3 separate regions of the Homo sapiens genome follow, and all the other regions are linked to region 2. The links come from fine-mapping of genetic effects on gene expression. A gene starts in region 2. Each other region holds a variant in brackets. All regions are shown on one strand. Distances are between the middles of the regions.

Region 1 (2,500 bases), 23 kb after region 2:
TTAGGGAGGAAGCAGCCATGGTGTCTTCCATCCAGGGCCAGCAGGCAAAGCTGATGCGTAGTGTGCAGAGTCCTTGGTGCAGCATCCCAAAGCACAGTATAGAAGGGTGGGGTTAGAGATGACAAAAAAAAAATGGATGACACACCGTCCTTGATTTACCCTCCCTTTGCAGATCCAGTCCACCACTAAGTGTTGTCAGCTCTGCCTCTAGAATGAATCTCAAGTTTGTCTACTCTCTGTGCACCTACGTCTTACATACAGTTGAGCTCCCTTCCACTGGTCTACTGCAGCAGCTTCCTAAGTAGTCTTTGATTCCGTTCTTACACTTTTTGTTCATTCTCCACAGAGCAACCAGTGATATTTTCTAAATACACATCAAATCATGTTACTTCCCTACCTAAACTACCCAGTAGCTACTGTGTACTTAGAATAAAACCCAGCGTTCTTAACTGGGGCCCATAGGGTAATATGTGATCTGCCCCCATCTGTCTACCTGATTTCCTACTCTTCCTCTCTTCTTAAGCCCCAGCATACTGGGCTTATCATTATGAGCACTTACCACTCTCTAATGGCATATTTATTGGTTTACTCTTTGTATTGTCTTGTTTCTTTGCTTGAATTATAGACACATTTGCATAGCATTTTTGTCTTGTTCATCACTTTATCTTCAGTGCCTAGGGAAATGCTTGGCACACAATTAAAAAGGTGTTCAACATTTATCTATTGATGAATGGGTAAATCCAGCACTGTCTCCCTCTTCCCTGCCACCTCCATATCCCAGTAGTCACTAGGACCTGTAGGTTCATGTATGTCTCTTTACTCTTTTTGATTTATCCTGAATGTCATGTCTCATTTTATATTCTGTATTATTTGTTTTCTGGTCTGTTACTGCCATCTTTTAACTGGTTTTCCTTCAGTGTTTTGTCTATTCCAGTCTGTATTTTGCACTGTCACCAAAAGATGATTTATGAAGCATAGGTCTTTAAAAATTACATGATGGGCTCGGTGCGGTGGCTCACGCCTGTAATCCCAGCACTTTGGGAGGCCGAGGCGGGCGGATCACCTGAGGTCAGGAATTCAAGACCAGCCTGGCCAACGTGGTGAAACCCCGTCTCTACTAAAAATATAAAAATTAGCCAGGTGTGGCGGTGTATGCCTGTAATCCCAGCTACTCGAAAGGCTAAGGCGGGAGAATGGCGTGAACCCGGGAGGTGGAGCTTGCAGTGAGCCAAGATCGTGTCACTGCACTCCAACCTGGGTGACAGAGTGAGACTCCATCTCAAAAAAAAAAAAAAAAAAA[AT/T]TACATGATGATTCCTCATTTCCTGTAGGATAAAGTCTCAGCTTAGAATCAACTGGTTGAATTGTTCATAGCTTTTCTTAAACCTGCCTTGTACATAACAGTGTCAGTCAGGGTTCAGGCAGAGAAGCAGAGTCACGATGAATGTTATGGGATAACGGTTTTACTGTAGGAAGTAGATCTTGAACAATTGTGGGAGGAACTGGGGAAGTGCAGGTCTGAAGAGGGGAGTTGGAGGATTAGAGAAAAGTAATGGATTGATACCTAAGCACTGGTGCAGGAGGACGAGGCGGAGCTTGTAGGGAAATCTGCAGCTGGCATGTACAGTGGCAAAGGGGACCCCTAAAGGGAAGCTCGTGGAAAGGTCTCTGGTAAGCTACTTCCTGTGAGTAGCTATCGCCTCTGTGGGTCTGCTGTTGATTGGCAGGACCTGCAGTTGGGAGGAACAGCTGAATGAGGAATGGAAAAGAACTAGGATGACCTAGAACTGGCTGAGCACTTCTGCATCTGTCCATCATCCTCTCTGCGTGTAAAGACCTTGAAGGAGTGATGTTAGCTGGTTCACTTCTGCCACCAAATCTTGCACAAGTCCCTCTTTTGGGTCAGCTCTAACTTGGAACAGGAAAGAGATTCTGGGAGATGTAATTCACAGCTTAATGGATTGGACAGTAAATCCATCCACCACAAGACTCTGTGACTTAGCCCCAGTGAACTGCTTGCTGTTATCTGAACATACTAATTTCATGTCAGTGTATTTGCAGTGTATATGCTGTTTCCTCTGCGTGATGTTCGTCTCTTCCTAGTGAACTTCTGCTCATTCTCTTAAGACACAACTCAAGTATTATCTCCTTGAAATCTTCACTTCCCAAGCAGCTGCTCTGTCCTCTTTGTTTTCATAGTAGTCCTCTACTTAGCATGTAAGCAATTTCTACCACATTTTTTTCAGTTTCCTCCAAATAGTTTAAGTGACAATTTATCTAGTGATGTAGATGCTTATAACAAGTTTGAGCCTAGAATGGTTTCCGAGAAATAGGTTATATACAAAGCAGTGCCGCCCTTACCAAGATTTTTTTGGTCTGATGACACTAGGTGGTAGCAGGGGTTTGTCTGATGGCCTGTTTTATCTTTTGTTAGTTGTAATAAATTAAAACACTGTGGCTATACCCACTGTCTCTTGAGTCCACCGTGACCAAGAGTAATGT
Region 2 (2,848 bases):
CTTAGGTGATAGTGGGGTACAGTGCAAAAGGTTTCTGAGCCAGCACACCTGGGATCAAGTTTTGTTTCTGTCACTTTTTCTTTGACCATGCACTCAATTTCTTTTGTGCCTCATTTAACTTATGAAAGGGGCATGCTTCTGTGAGCCTTACAGGGCTCTTATAAGAATTATGCATAATGATTCACATGAAAGCACATGGTTAACTGAAAGAAAATACCTTTATATAATTGCCAGTAATTATTATTACACTAGATTCCTATCCCCTCAAGACTACACTTTTATTTTCTTTGATCAGAACAGGCCAGGCCAATGGACCAAAGTGGGCGGCAACCTTGGGGCAGGTGGCCCCAAGAGGCAGCCCCAGTCCAGCCTCAGGAGGGAAGACAGCCTGATTGGGGGGTGGCAGTGTGTGTAGGAGGCCTTAGAAGCTCTGTGAAGTTGGTCTGCCATGACTTGAATCTCCACAAGAAGACTCCACTTTAAAATAGGGCATTTTAAATAAACTTCTATTTTTCACTTCAATTCACTGTTTAAGTCTTAAAATATTGAAAATCTGAGTTAACTGGAGTGAAATGAAAGGCGTGGCAGATAAAGCAAAGTGAGACAAAAAGAGACTCTTATGAACATCAAAATATGAGGTACAGAGCTTGGGCAGACATAAATACAAAAATTATTAATATTAACAAAAAGCAGTAGGAAAGTGGAAATATTATAATGAAAGAAAAGGAAACCGATATCAATGCTAGCTTTAGAGATGAAATAGGCCTGGAGAACTCTGTGGCAGGCAGAGAGCGATGCTAAAATAATAAAACAAGCCACAAAGCACAATATACAATACTAACGAAATATATCCTTTAATGGCACACAAAGTGGCTTTTCTCTACTGCTTGAAACTTTAGCAGGTAGAAAAGTGAGAATGTTTCAAGAGACTTCTAAAAGGTTGCTTACAGTACTGGCAAAAAGCGAATATTCAAAATGCCACATTTAAGCGTAAGGACATTTTCAAAAAGAGCCTACTGTAGGTGACATTTAAAATACCGCCTCCCAAATAACCAGCCAGCCAGGGACTTGTAGAGGACCCGAAGTGTGTCATGCGCATAAACGATCCCGAGAGTGGGCCGCGGGCACCACGCAAACTTTCTCTTGTGGCAAGCCCCTAGAACAAAGCGCCCATCTCACTGGGGATGAGGAGATCAGCGCGACCCTGGAATGAGACAGACTCTGGGCTAAAGCTCCCCTCCCAACATAGGGCGTCCCACCCTGCCCCACAGACTCTTCTCCCAGGTCAGGTCCGCCAGTCCAAGTCTAGCCCCGGCATCCCGAAGGCAGCCCCTTAGGGTCCCAGCAGCCCTAGCTCTGTCTCGCAGGCCACCGCCCCCAACCCAGAGCTTCATTCATTGACCCCGGCGGAGGGGCGAGACCCAGCCGGGCGATGGGTGTGCGCGGCTCGAGGCGGGGGCCCCGGAGCAGGTGCTTACTCTGCGTGTCCGTTAAGGAGATCATGGCTGCAGTGGTGGGGACAGCGGCGACAGCACCTCGGAAAGCCCAGGGTGGGAAGCTGAGTCGGGAGAAATGAAGCCGGGAAACAGCCCAGGCGAGAGCCGCCACGTCTTCCGGAAACACGCAGCCACCCTCACTGCCGCTTTAAGAGCGCTTCCTATTGGCGAAACCTGCTTCCAATCTCAACCAATAACTCGTAATGTTGTTCGGTGACGCGCATGGTGACCACACCCCTTGACCAATTAGAGAAGGGAGTTATCTGTGATTGGCTGAACGGACCGACCCGGAAGGGTGGATGCTCTCAGCTGGCTGGCGGGAAGATTTTACTCCCGAGTAGCGGAAAGATCTGCTCGAGGCCTGGGTGCTTTGGTGTCGGAGATCCGAGAGTCGGAGATCGGAGAGTCGGACACAGGACAGTCGGACACCGGACAGTCAAACACCGGAGAGTTAGACCGGGCTTCTCGGTGGGGAGAGGCTCTGGGATAACTACTGTTACAGCTTTGAAGGGTCAAGGGTGTGCGCTTTTTGTTTCATCCTTCCCTTTCCTGCTGCAGGGCGAGGCCGGTCTGTAGCGGATCACTTCCTTTCGCCCACACATTGGCGGAGGAGAAACCGGAAAGTTAATCACTGCCCTGCTCTGAGAACTCGGGCCTTTAGGGGCACGTTCGCCTGCTGACCGGTCTTCTGATCTCCCCATTCTTTTCCATGCAGGAGGATTGGCCACCAAAGCCTGTTTATTAGCAGCTGCCATTTGTTGGTAAATACTACTGGGGATGCTTCTTCCACCCCCTGCTTCACAGTAGCGGAAGGGCGGGCGTTATTAATATTAAATTACTATTGCCTCTAAATGCAGGTGGCGGGGAGAGAGAGGATTTAGCCTATGGTATCTCAGTGGCGTTTCCTCCAACATTGATGACTGGCTGTCACCCTGTAACATTCTTCCTGTGGATGCCTAGCTTATACTGCTGAGTGACAGACCTGCTGTAGTTCAATTTCTGGATACATTTTATGTTGAGATATCTTTTGCTGTTAAATCACATCATTTTGGGAAGGAGCAGTCTTTTAACCGCATAATCAAAGGAGTCATTTAAAATCGTGGGGGAGAATTGGATATAGACTGTGTCTTTTCATAAGGGTAGAAACAGCCCCTGCTACCTTAGCAAACCTGAGCCCTCACTACATCAAGGCATTTTCCTGGGCTGTGCGGATACAAAGGTGAAGAGATTGAACCCCAGCCCTGCTAAAGGACCTTACAGTCTATGGAAGGAATGTTACATTTTCATTACGTGAAGAGATGTTTGTATAGATCAAGAATTAGAAATCCTTGGTTTACTCTCCTATTTAGCCT
Region 3 (2,848 bases), 26 kb before region 2:
CCCGAAAGTAAGCAAAGCTGTTCTGTTATGCAGGTGAAAGAGGCCACTATGCTAGTACCTTCTGGTGATTTCTGAAGGGACGCCAGTAAGATGGTTGCTGCCTCCGGAATAGTTAGTAGTTGGGGATTTGGGCTTCGTCTTTCTGCAGAAACAAAAATGTATACAGATTCTCTTAGCATTTATATATTGATGTAGATAAGTCCTATTCTAACATGCAGCAATACTAGAAAAACCTCTATGAAATAGATTTTGACCCCTCAACAAAGGACTACTTACACAGAAGACTAATTTTTTAACATGTCACAATTGCCTTGGAAATGACTTACAATTGGTTATGTCAAGTTTACAAACAGGGTATGGAAGAGAATGTTAAACTATATGCCAAAGAGAATTTTAGATAATAATTTAACCTTTGCGGCCAAATATAAGGTAATTATTTGACTGAAGGAGTATCTGCTAAGAACTCAAAGTTATTTCAAATCTAAGTTGAAAAAAGACAAATTGTTCTGATTCAGCACAAAACATGATTTCTAATTTGGGGCAACTGAAGTTGAGAAACAAATCTTAACCTCATAAAATAAATAAGCTCAATTACACAGCATGTTTGAAGAGCCTAAACAAAAATTTAAGCACCTACTATGTGTTCAACAGTGTTTGGTATTTTTCCAAGTAAGTATACTTTTTAATTTTAGCATTTCAATCTTTACAATTTCATCAAATTGTATTGTTATTTGTTAATACAATACGATGGAAAGGTTTATCATGAAAAAGAACAGTCCCCGGTCCCATCCTTAACTGCCCGCATGTTACTCTTTTGATTTTGAACCTTTGATAGTTCTTTCTAGTCAAACAAAAGCATACATTTGAAGTTCCTAGGTAAGTTCTTATTTTAATAATAACAGCGTTTAAGAGGAGGCTGAGTAAAGTTCCTGCACAAACGCGCAGATACATTTCTAGAAGCATTTGCATAGTTCTTCCTATCTCGCCTTACCCCTCTGAGCTGCACCTCAGGTCCTAACTCCCTGGGGACCTCTGCACACCCTGGCAGCCAGAGGGCTGGCTGAACAGCCGCAAGCCAATAAGGCTTGGGGAGCCGCAGCGCCAGCCTGGGCCGCCCTTGCCACCATTGGCGCGGGGCTGGACGCGCGAGCTCCCAGCTCCGGCGCTCGGCATCCAGCTGCTGCTGCTGCCAACCCGGGCTGCCCTCGGGCGGACTGTATCTGAGGGCGCCTCAGAGCCGCGTCTTTCCGGTGAGGAGACGCTTTCTTTCGGCACCAGCGCGGAGCAAGCCCTGCCCGCCCCATCCTATTCCAAAAGCGCAGGACTAGCGCCCTTGCACCCTTGGTCACTCACCCGGCAGTGGCCGGTCGGAGAGGTCCTTTCTCCGGCTCTGGTCGGAGATGAAGCGGCGACCCTCTGCAAAAACGAGACCTGGGGCTCAGCGACAGCCTGGCCCGGGACAACCCGGGCTTAAACCTCAGCTCCTCCCGGCACAGCGCAGTCCCCGGGCGTGGGGAGGGGGCAGGTTGCTCCAGGATAGGGTCGCGCGGGGCTGCCGAGTTTCCAGCGCTCCCAGCGCAACCCCGGGCTGAGCCAGG[G/A]GCCCTGGAGCTCTGGAGGAAAGCCCCGCGCCTGACCGGACGCCGCAAGGGCGCTTTGGAGCGGAGGTCGGGTTACTGAGATATTTCCCAGGCAACCCGAGTCCCCATTTGGACCAAGAGAAGCAACCCTCCAGTTTTGGATGGAGAATTTCTAATAAGGATGGAGGATTTCCAATAATCAGGGACTCTTCCCCTCTCCCACCCCTCCCTCACCTACCGGTCTCTTTGATGGCCTCGATGATTTAAGGGAATAAACTCGACATTATTCTCTCTCCATAACTCTCCATCTATCTGTTCCTGACTCCTAGGGGTCTTCCATTATTGTAGGAAGAGCGAAATATTTGGAACTTACGTGCCCCTTTCAGGTAGAGCATAGCTTGAGGAGTCCAGTTCCTTCTCTCCAACAGTCTCTATAGCCCGGGGGAAGGGAAGAGCAGTTAATAAAACATTGCAGCTCAGTCCTCTATTACAGCAAAATAAAGGAAAAAGAAGAGAATAAAACAAGAAGGAAGAAAGAAAGAGCAGAGTGGACACACAGTGCGCATTGTTTTAAAATTTTTTATTTTGCATTTGATTACCTGCGGAGCGCAGCTGGAGTTTCCCAGGAAAACAAACACCAGGAAAAGAGCCAAGGTTGTTGCTGCCAGACTTCTGAGTCCCTATATGAAGCGATCAACCAGAAAGGGTCATTTCTGTGCCAATAGGATCTTCTGCTTCCTTCCTTGACGCCTGGACAATTATAAACCCCCTTACTTCTCGCAATATTCTGTTTTAATACTCAGTTTTCTGGAGGTGTTTCCCTTCTACCTTCTAGTTAATTCACAAAGAGTCCACTTGAAAAAACGTATTTAGAAACATATTATTTGTATTACTTCACCCAAATGAAGAATAAGTAAATACGTGAATTTTTTTCTTAGTAAAATCAAATGATTCTGTTATTCTAAAGGCGTATCGTTCAAATATCCTTTAAACTCTAAAATCCTTATTAAACATGAAATAGGTAAAATGCTATAAAACGTTTTAAAAAATAGCTAAGAAGTCTCAAGTTAATAAAGCCTTTACTTACCTTCATGTTCTGCGTCTTTTCAGAACCCTGAAATAACTATAACTTTATCTGTGAGTTTTCGACTCTTGCTCTGAAATTGGAGCTTTTAAAATCTTGGTGTTAAGGGCACCTCCCCATCTGGAGTAGAGTTTGGGAGTCCACAGGGACATCTTGTCAGTCTTCAAGCAAGATTGAGAATCTGATG

Direction of the effects. Positions count from the first base shown, and alleles are read on the strand shown. Sizes are in standard deviations (SD) of each study's normalised expression. Not every link is listed here.
As copies of T replace AT in region 1, the expression in lymphoblastoid cells of the gene that starts at base 1,638 in region 2 goes down (small effect, 0.33 SD a copy in GEUVADIS).

What was found.
Region 1: its variant is fine-mapped to the expression of GOLT1B in lymphoblastoid cells (GEUVADIS, PIP 0.95).
Region 3: its variant is fine-mapped to the expression of GOLT1B in lymphoblastoid cells (GTEx, PIP above 0.99). The same link has a PIP of 0.9 or more in B cells, T cells, monocytes and whole blood.

What each region holds. Positions count from the first base shown.
Region 1 is chr12:21,478,152-21,480,651 of GRCh38, reverse strand. The region is part of intron 6 of RECQL (RecQ like helicase); the gene reads left to right. Among named protein-coding and RNA genes, the nearest start is that of RECQL, 22 kb to the left of the region's middle. The variant AT/T (reference allele first, on the strand shown) is at 1,301.
Region 2 is chr12:21,500,579-21,503,426 of GRCh38, reverse strand. It overlaps GOLT1B (golgi transport 1B), which reads right to left and starts at 1,638. Exons shown (of 5, transcript NM_016072.5): 1 at 1,479-1,638. The coding sequence starts at 1,503. RECQL (RecQ like helicase) reads left to right here and starts at 1,792. Exons shown (of 15, transcript NM_002907.4): 1 at 1,792-2,257. RefSeq lists enhancers at 290-339, 573-1,280, 1,281-1,988, 1,939-1,998, 2,139-2,328 and 2 more.
Region 3 is chr12:21,526,295-21,529,142 of GRCh38, reverse strand. SPX (spexin hormone) reads right to left here and starts at 2,847. Exons shown (of 6, transcript NM_030572.4): 1 at 2,665-2,847; 2 at 2,177-2,257; 3 at 1,951-2,008; 4 at 1,354-1,416; 5 at 59-142. The coding sequence starts at 2,670. The variant G/A (reference allele first, on the strand shown) is at 1,599.